2 linked regions of the Homo sapiens genome follow. The protein of the gene in region 2 purifies or fractionates together with the protein of the main gene of each other region. This does not show direct contact. Each region holds a gene or a part of one and is shown on either strand. Other genes may lie near its edges.

Region 1 (3,807 bases), on a different chromosome or scaffold from region 2:
AAAGCCCCTTTCAAGTAAAGCATTATTACCCTTTAAACACAGCCTTTTGGGGTTCAAGGACAGATCCCATACATGAAAAACAGATATGTTGAAATACCCCATAGCTACATTATTTTTAAGGAGGATGACTTACTTTTAATCATTATTATCATAACAACAAAAGACTTCAGGCATGGTGCTTACAAGGAGTCACAAAACCAAAAACTGCCAAACAAATATTGGAATTTTAGTGGGGTTTCCAGTTTCCTCCCTTCTCCCCTGAAATCCCTGTCTTGAGCTAAGGTTACCTTGATTGCTTTCCAAAATGAGGACTATGATATTAGCAATTCCCTGAAGGGTAAAATGTGAAACTTCCAGGCTAAGAGTCAACCACTAGTAAGTGTGGTCTGGAAATTTCAGTGATTCCTGCCTCTGGAGGGTGTTCAGGCCAAGCAACTTTGCCTTAAAAATGGCCAAGTATAAGGCCTGTAACTGTGATGATTAATGGTTGCTGCCTAAATATTTTAATATTCCATCTTCTAAAACCAACTCTCTACAGGAGCATCATAATATTACACCCATACAAATGGAATTAAAACACAAGACCTACAAGCTAGATGCTAGAGAAAATTCTGCATCTTCCTCCATTAGGACCATCTGACTGTATTTCATATTATTTCCCACAAATTCAACTGCAGATCCTCTTGTTCTGGACTGTGTAGATGATTTTGTTTATTACATACCATAAATATCATCCCCAAACCCAAACTGATGAGCAAATTATAAGGTGCTTATTGCAATTATCACCCTATAATTCACAATTGATGAATCTACATTGAAGATAATACCTGACTCCCCTACATATTTCTTCACCCCTCCTCCCCAATCTTCCCCTAGCTATCATTGGCCTTACTAAGCTATCAATATTTCAATAACAACATGTCCCAGGTAATCTGCAGATTTGGCCCTAGGAGTGACAAAAGTTTTAAAATAACCATTAGGGGTCATGAATGCAATGTGTTTTCTACTACTGACAATTCAAATCTGGCAAGGTGAAGGGGTATAGAATGAATTATTGCTTAAAGAGTTACTCTTGCAAGAGTTCACATAGAGGATGTCCTGCACGTGACAGCAGGAGTGACCCCTGCTTTGTCTTGGAGGCTGGACCTGAGCACTTTTCAGAGCACAGGAACTCTCAAATACTTCCCTTGCCCTGTCTACAACTGCTGGCTTCCTCTAAGTAAAAGGACCTTTGAACCTCTCTCAAGAAGCCGCTTGACATCCAGCTCATAAGAGCACAACAATCACAACGATTTCCAGTTAATCATGAAATGTGTAAAATGTCAGCCTCCAGCCGACAGTTAAGCTCAGCCACTTCGTGAAATGGCCACACGTCTTGCTTACCTTCCACCAGGGAGGTGAGTAACGTGACATTTGCTGCTTTGCGCCTGCCCGCGGGTAAATTCAAACCGATTTTTTCTAGCCTTTCTCGCAAAGATCTCCCCCCATTTTTCGATTTGGCTCTGAAATTGCAAGAATTAACATTCTGATTAACCTTAGAGTGTTCCTGAAACAAAGTTTAGACTTAGCAATCTAAAGCCCAGTGGAGCTTGAAGAGGTTTTAACTTGAGGTTAGCACATTTTTCCCCCTTCCTTTTGGTTATTTGCTGATAGTTTGCTGAGGTTTGCTTAATTTCTGCAATACAGAGAATTTTTTTTAACTGAGTGTTCTTTTTTTATCTTGTGAGAAAAGAAAAAAAAAGGATACCAGATGGGAATAATTAGGTGTAGGTTATGGGTCTAGAGAAGGTAGAAGCTGCACATGCACGTGCATGTTCCTTCCTTGTCATGGAGTTAGTGAGGTGAGCAGAAACTGGGCAAGCACAACCTTGCTGAAAAGAGGATAAGAGCCAGGTGGCTTAGAGAGGAGAGCGCACTTGCTGCAACAGGTGGGCTTTGTGAGGAAGGGGTCAAGAGTTGCTGTATATGGTGTTATGTTAAAAGGAGAGGGCAGACTGAAATCGAAATGGTGATGATCATAATAACAGTAAAACTAACACTTTTGGAAGTGTAGTTATGTGATAAGCACTTTATATTGATTATTTTACTTCATCTCTGCAAATTTATATATACAGGCTTAATGTTCAGGGGGTGATTGAAAACTTCCACACTCTGAGGCTCAAAGCACTCACTTGAAAACTGAATCAAAGGAGGGCAGAGGAAGAGGATTCAAAATGAGAAAGTTCCTGGGTCACACCCTTAATTTCTCCCAAGATTCTCCTTGTATGTGCTAAAGTATGGACAAAAGTACAAGTAAAAATCCTCAGTTACTGTAATCTCTTTTGCTGTACTATTCATACAGTCACTTTTAGGAAAGAAAAGGACTGTCAACCCCCAGAAGGGGTCATCTTGGAAAGTTTTGTCTCAGACAAAGTCACTTTCATATCAGGGACACTGCCAAAGTGTTCAGGCATTGGCAGGGACTTCAAGGGAGGCATTACATCTTAAGATAAAATCCACATTCTCTCACATTTCCACGAGGAGGAGTCAGTCTCTGGGCTGTGGAATACTGTGAAGCACCTGAATGGCTCCCAGGAATACCTATAAATACTTCTAAAGTGATATTATTGCTATTATTGGTGGTGGTGTTATTGAAAGAGGGATGTCACAAATTTAGAAAAAGAGTTTATCAAACTGGGTTACAGTGCATCAGCAGGTTGAAAGACCAATTTCACTGGGTGCCAACTGCATTTAAAACATGCAATAAAAGAGAAAGAGTACACTGAAGGTATGAAGAGAGTTGCTTCATGAAACTTATGGGGTTTTTTGTGGGGGGGCTGGGGGGCTGTTAGTTCCGCGTTGTACTCAGGCTGGAGAATGCCCCCTGAGATGTCCTAGGGGTGACAGGAAGAGAGGCGCCAGGCGCAGGGCCAGGAAAGTGAAAGGTTCCCAGGGCGGCAAAATCTGCGGTAGGACTTGCGCGGCGCGGGCAGGCCTGGATGCAAGGACACTAGAGTTTGTGGGCGAGCAGGTGGCGGCCGCGGATCCTCCCAAGCGCTGCGCGAAAGCAATGCTCCGGCCACCCGGTTGCTAGGCAACTGCGTCAGACTGCAGATTGGGTTTTGCTGGAACCTTCTCCTCACTGTCCAATAAATAAAAACTGGTGGGTTTTTGTTTGTTTTTTTGTTTTTGTTTTTGTTTTTCGTGGTGGGGTTACCTTCTGAGGACTCCGCCGAGGAGAGATGCATTGAGGCATTCAGGGGGCGACAGCCGTCTCTGAACTTCTCCCACAGTTACTTTGTACTTCGAAGTTGAACTGAGCAGAGACAAACGGCCTGGGACGGAGCAAAACACCTCGCCGGTGTTGACAGACATGCCTCCCAGGAAGCCGTCTTTATTCATCATTAGAGAAGTCACCGATTTGGGAGGAACTGGAACTAGAAAGAGAGAAAAAATTGCCATAAAGGTGACCAAGTTTCGATCCTGATGACCGGCTGATAGAATGTGTCTCTGTGTGAGGCCACAGGACAGACACCAAGTGGAAAGCTGAGGGAGGAAGTGTTTATTCCAGTGGGGCTGCAGTGCGTTCAGAGAGCTGTAAACAAACAGATGGCAAAGCCATACCTCCTCTGGAAACTTACTTCGTGTGTAGACATATGAGTGTCATTTGCTACAGTCCTGCTCACTACCCAAATCAAGAAATCAAACAACCCAGAGTTTGGACTGTGCTGGGAACCAGGCAAATCTTATTCCATCGTGTGCTAACTCTGTGACCTTAGACACCTGACTGACTCTGTCTGAACCTCCTCAGTTTCCTTATCTGTCTCC
Region 2 (4,549 bases):
CCCCTCACCCCAGGGACTCGCAGCTGGCCCGCGCGCCAGGGTACACACGGGCTGCGGGAGAAGGTGAAAGTTAGGATGCAGCACGAGCTCCGAGAGTGGCCTGGGCTGTGCCTCCTAAGAGAACAGCCGAGGTCCCCGGCGGCTCTGGGAAGCTGCCCCTGGGCCGGGAGAGCGGGAGGCGGCGACGCAAGGACGCGCCCGGAGCCTGGGCGCGCCGGGGGCGGGCGTTTGGCTGGAAGTGGGGCAGTGTCTCCTATGGGAAAGCGAGACCCGGCGAGCTCTTTGGCTGCTTTTCCAGTTTCCGAGGTGCCCGCCCCCGCGCGCCTGAGGCAGCGCAGCCCGGAGGGCGAACGAATGGCGGTTGGCAAACTTTGAGTGAGAGTGCGCTCCGGATCCGAATTGCCGAATTGTGGCTGCGGCAGGGTCGGCCGAGACACAAGTTCGCTTTTTCCGCCTGCCCGATGGGCCTTAGGGAGACTTCAGCTCCAGCTTGGTGGAGCGCCTCGCCCGAGGGAGTTGTGTCACTTTGCTCAGGGGCAGGGAGGGCGGCGCCCTGGGCGGGTGGGGAAGGGTCCCTGTGGCCCCTGGGGTCCCAAGCGCCTCTTCCCTCGTCTCCCCTCCCACCGGCCCCTCCCAGTCTTCTCTGCCTCGCTCCTTCCCGGGGCTGGCTGGACCGGCGCGGACTTGCCCCAGACCTACGGGGAGCGCCCCAGGTCTTTAATGACAGCTTAAATGTGGCTGTTGGAAAAGTCGAAAGGGATGTGGCTGACGTGGGGCGTGTTTCGCTCCTTTGCAAGAGTCGGAAAGGGAGTTGGGAGCCGCGCGGCTGGCCCCAGGCCCCCGCGCCTCGCCGCCAGCAAGTAGGTGGGGGAGCCGCCGCCGCCGCCAGCCCCATCCCGCTCCCAAGCCTCGCCCGCTGCGCCCTGGCCGCGGGCGCCGAGAGGGTGCGGGGCCTCGCCGTGCCTCCTCCACCCTGCTCATTAACCTGCCTGCTCCGCTCCGCTCCGGGCGGCCCCAGACACGGGTTTCCCGCGGCAGCACCCGCGGCCCGCCCGGCGCAGCCGCCGCCCCGACCCCCCGGCTCCGGGGGGCAATGAGGGGGCAGTGGAAGGGGCACTGCTCCTCGGGCATTACTTAGAGAAACGAGACCGTCCCGCCCTCTCGCCGGCCCTCCCTCTCTCCCGCCCGGGCCCGCGCAATTCTCCGCCAGAGGGTAAGTTGGGAGTGTTTCGCCCCCACCGACAGCTCTCCCTCCCTTTCCTTTTTTTTTTCCTTCAAAGTTTTCTTAGAAGTGGGAGCCGGGTGGGGGAGGAAGAAGGTCTGGTCAGCCTCCGTCCTTTACCCTATCTCTCCGGTCTAACTTGTCCCCCCCTCCCCCCTCCCCTCCATCCCCTGCGCGCCGCTGCCCCTCCGGAGCTGCGCTCGGGAATGACAATTGGAGCGCGGCTCCTTTAAGAGCCCGGCTTTGCCTCCCGGTAGCTGAAGGTCATTAAACACAAAAGCTCTCAGCGCTGCGGTCCAATATAGCGCATGCGCCCTGCCCGAGGACTGGCAGAGAGACGGCAATATGGCGAGAATGCCTGGCAGCGGGGACTGTAACACCAGCGCGGGCGGCAGCGCCAGCGCTGCCGCCGCCGCCGCCGAGAACAATGGGGAGCGGGGCGAGGGCGAGCGCGGCGCGGGGGGCCGCGGCCGCCGCCACAGCCGTCCGCACTACTGCAGCGCGGGCGAGGAGGAGGAGGAAGAGGAGGAGGAGGACGAGATCCAGGAGGTGCAGATAACGGGGGACGAGGAGGAGGAGGAGGACGGAGGTGGGGGGCTGGAGGAGGACGAGGAGGAGGAGGAAGAGGAGGAGATGGGGCTGGACTGGGACGAGCCCCTGGAGCCCGAGGACTCGGCCGGGGAGGAGCTGGAGCCCGAGCCGGTCCATATGATCAATATGGACCAGAGCGCCGCGCTGGAGCCCGAGGCGCCGCCGCGACTGCTGGCGCCCCGGGCCCGCGGTGGGCCGCCCGGGGACGGCTCCGAGCTGGACCCCGACGTGCTGCAGCGCCCCGAGCGGGCCCGGCTGAGCGAGAACACCCGGCTGGCCACCCGCTACGCCGTGCGCATCTTCCGGGAGTACCTGAGCGAGAAGGCGCAGAGCCCGGACTTCGAGACCATGGACAAGGGGGCGCTGTGCCGCGTGCTGCGCTCCTTCTATGCCGAGGCCCGCTCCAAAAGCGGCCAGCTCTACAGCAAGTCGTCGCTCATCAGCATCCGCAGCTCCCTCAACCGCTACCTCAATGAGCCCCCGTACTGCCGCACGCTCGACCTCACCAAGGACCCCGAGCTGCGCAGCGCCAACCTGACGCTGGCCGCGGTCATCCGCAAGCTCGAGGAGCAGGGCGCCGGGCCGGTGGTGCAGAAGCAAGCCATCACGCGCGCCGACCTGCGCAAGCTGTACACCTCCAGCGTCTTCAGCACCAACACGCCCTTCGGGCTGCTCAACAAGGTCTGGTTCGAGACGTGCATGTACTTCTGTACCCGCGGCCGCGAGAACCAGCGTGAGTTGGAGGAGGACTCTTTTGGGCTGGCCATGGACGAGGACGGTCGCAAGTTCGTCTACTTCAAGTCCCTCGGGCCCTACCACAAGTCGCGCTCGTCGTCGTGGAGCAAGAAGCGCGCCGAGAGCAGCGACGAGGAGAACTTGCCCCGCATGTATGAGACGGGCACCGAGTTCTGCCCCTACGCCAGCTTCGTCAAGTACCTGTCGAAACGCAACCCTCTCTGCAAGGCGTTCTTCCAGCGGCCCCGGGACCACTGCAGCGAGGGCGATGTGACCTGGTACGAGAACAAAGCCATCGGCAAGAACTTGCTAGGCACTCGGATGCAGATGCTCTCCAAGGCGGCCAAGCTCTCCAAGACCTACACCAACCACTGCATCGGCGCCGTCTCCATCGCCACGCTCAACAGCATCGCGGGCATTGGCACCAAGCTGGGCTCGCCCGCCCCGCAGGGCTGCTACGCCGAGGCTCTGAACGGGGCGGCACGGCACCACTCCCACCACCCCCCCACCCATCCCTCCCACCACCACCGCCCCCAGCCGCCCTCGCTGGGGAACACTTACATCCTCCCCAAAGACAGCCAGGTCGGGCCCGACGTGAAATCCGAGGCTGCGCCCAAGCGCGCCCTGTACGAGTCTGTGTTCGGGTCGGGGGAAATCTGCGGCCCCACTTCCCCCAAAAGACTTTGTATCCGCCCCTCGGAGCCTGTGGATGCGGTGGTGGTGGTTTCCGTGAAACACGACCCCCTGCCTCTTCTTCCAGAAGCCAATGGGCACAGAAGCACCAATTCTCCCACAATAGTTTCACCTGCTATTGTTTCCCCCACCCAGGTAACCAAACCAAACTCTATGCATGAAATGTTTCTTTGGTACCACTTCGGGACTAACTTTTGTGCTAATGCAGCTCTGGGTAGGGGGGAAGTTTTAAAAAGTAGGTAATGTACTGAATCGGATTTCGTTTCACCCTTAGAAGTTAACTCTCTTGGTGCTTTTTGGGAAACTTTACACCTAACCTTAAAAGATGTGAGAGAGGGCATGCTACCTAACAAATCACTGCTGTGCAGTAAGGCGAAAAACTTCAAAGTTCGCCGAACAAAAGGATTAGCTCACTCTTGCAGCCGCTCTTCATTGAATGCATGAGTTTTATAAGGCAAAGACTGCGAGAACACTGTAAATGTAAAGGAAGCAGTTACTTAAGACATATTTGAATCAAGTAACCCTTAAAAGACTCTATTACGTATTCGCCATGACCTTAGAAGGTAGAAAAACAGTTATAAATTATTGAAAAGAAAACGTGCCAATCCCACTTCCTGTAGCTTTTTTTTTTTTTTTTAAAGAAAAGGGGTGGAGAGTGGAGAGCCAGGCAGTTGAGTGCCAGTTTATACTGTAACATGTAGTTGAATGTAAACTGGCAGTGTGGGGTGCAATTTCCATAAACTAAAGTGGGAACGTGGTATCTGCAATTCCAGTCAGGCTACAAATTGGAGTATGGGCCTGTGGTGCCCAGCACTGTGGGCACTGAAACATTGCTGTCTCCCCCTAGCCCCACGGAGCTCACTATCTAGGGGGCAGATAATACCTACGAAGTAGATAATTAGAGTAAGAGTGCTATCCCAGCAGCTGAGTCAGCATGGACAAATCACTTCACTTCTCCTTGGCTTCACTATCCTCATCAAAGAGGAAGAAACTATTTCCACCCTAACATGATTTAAGTCTAAGCAGTGCCAAATTCTGGGTCGAGACTGGGGCCTCTAGTGTTAGATTCTTCTTTCCTTATTTTCCCCAAGGTAGTATTTTCGTGAGTATTATTAAAGTTATATTCATGTTTTGGACACTCTCTAGTCTAGGAGTCAGAAACCAGGGGTCTTTGGACACTGTGTTCTATTCTGCAGGCAGGAGTACCCACTGGAGGTTTTACAACTTTGACCTGCCTGCCATCAAGCAGAAGTAGGAATTTTGCAGGTCTGAAGGTATAGTGCAGGCCCTCCAGGAACATATGTCAGG

The links.
Region 1: the proteins of KCTD1 (region 2) and TFAP2B purify together in Homo sapiens (affinity purification with western blotting, with the first as the bait; one study listed by BioGRID). This does not show direct contact.

The regions. Positions count from the first base shown.
Region 1 is NC_000006.12:50,835,670-50,839,476, reverse strand, and holds part of TFAP2B (transcription factor AP-2-beta), read right to left. Parts: intron 3,417-3,807; coding exon 3,197-3,416; intron 1,503-3,196; coding exon 1,384-1,502; intron 1-1,383.
Region 2 is NC_000018.10:26,545,555-26,550,103, reverse strand, and holds the start of KCTD1 (BTB/POZ domain-containing protein KCTD1), read left to right. Parts: upstream 1-1,550; 5' UTR 1,551-1,567; coding exon 1,568-3,376; intron 3,377-4,549. UniProt on the Homo sapiens protein: May repress the transcriptional activity of AP-2 family members, including TFAP2A, TFAP2B and TFAP2C to various extent.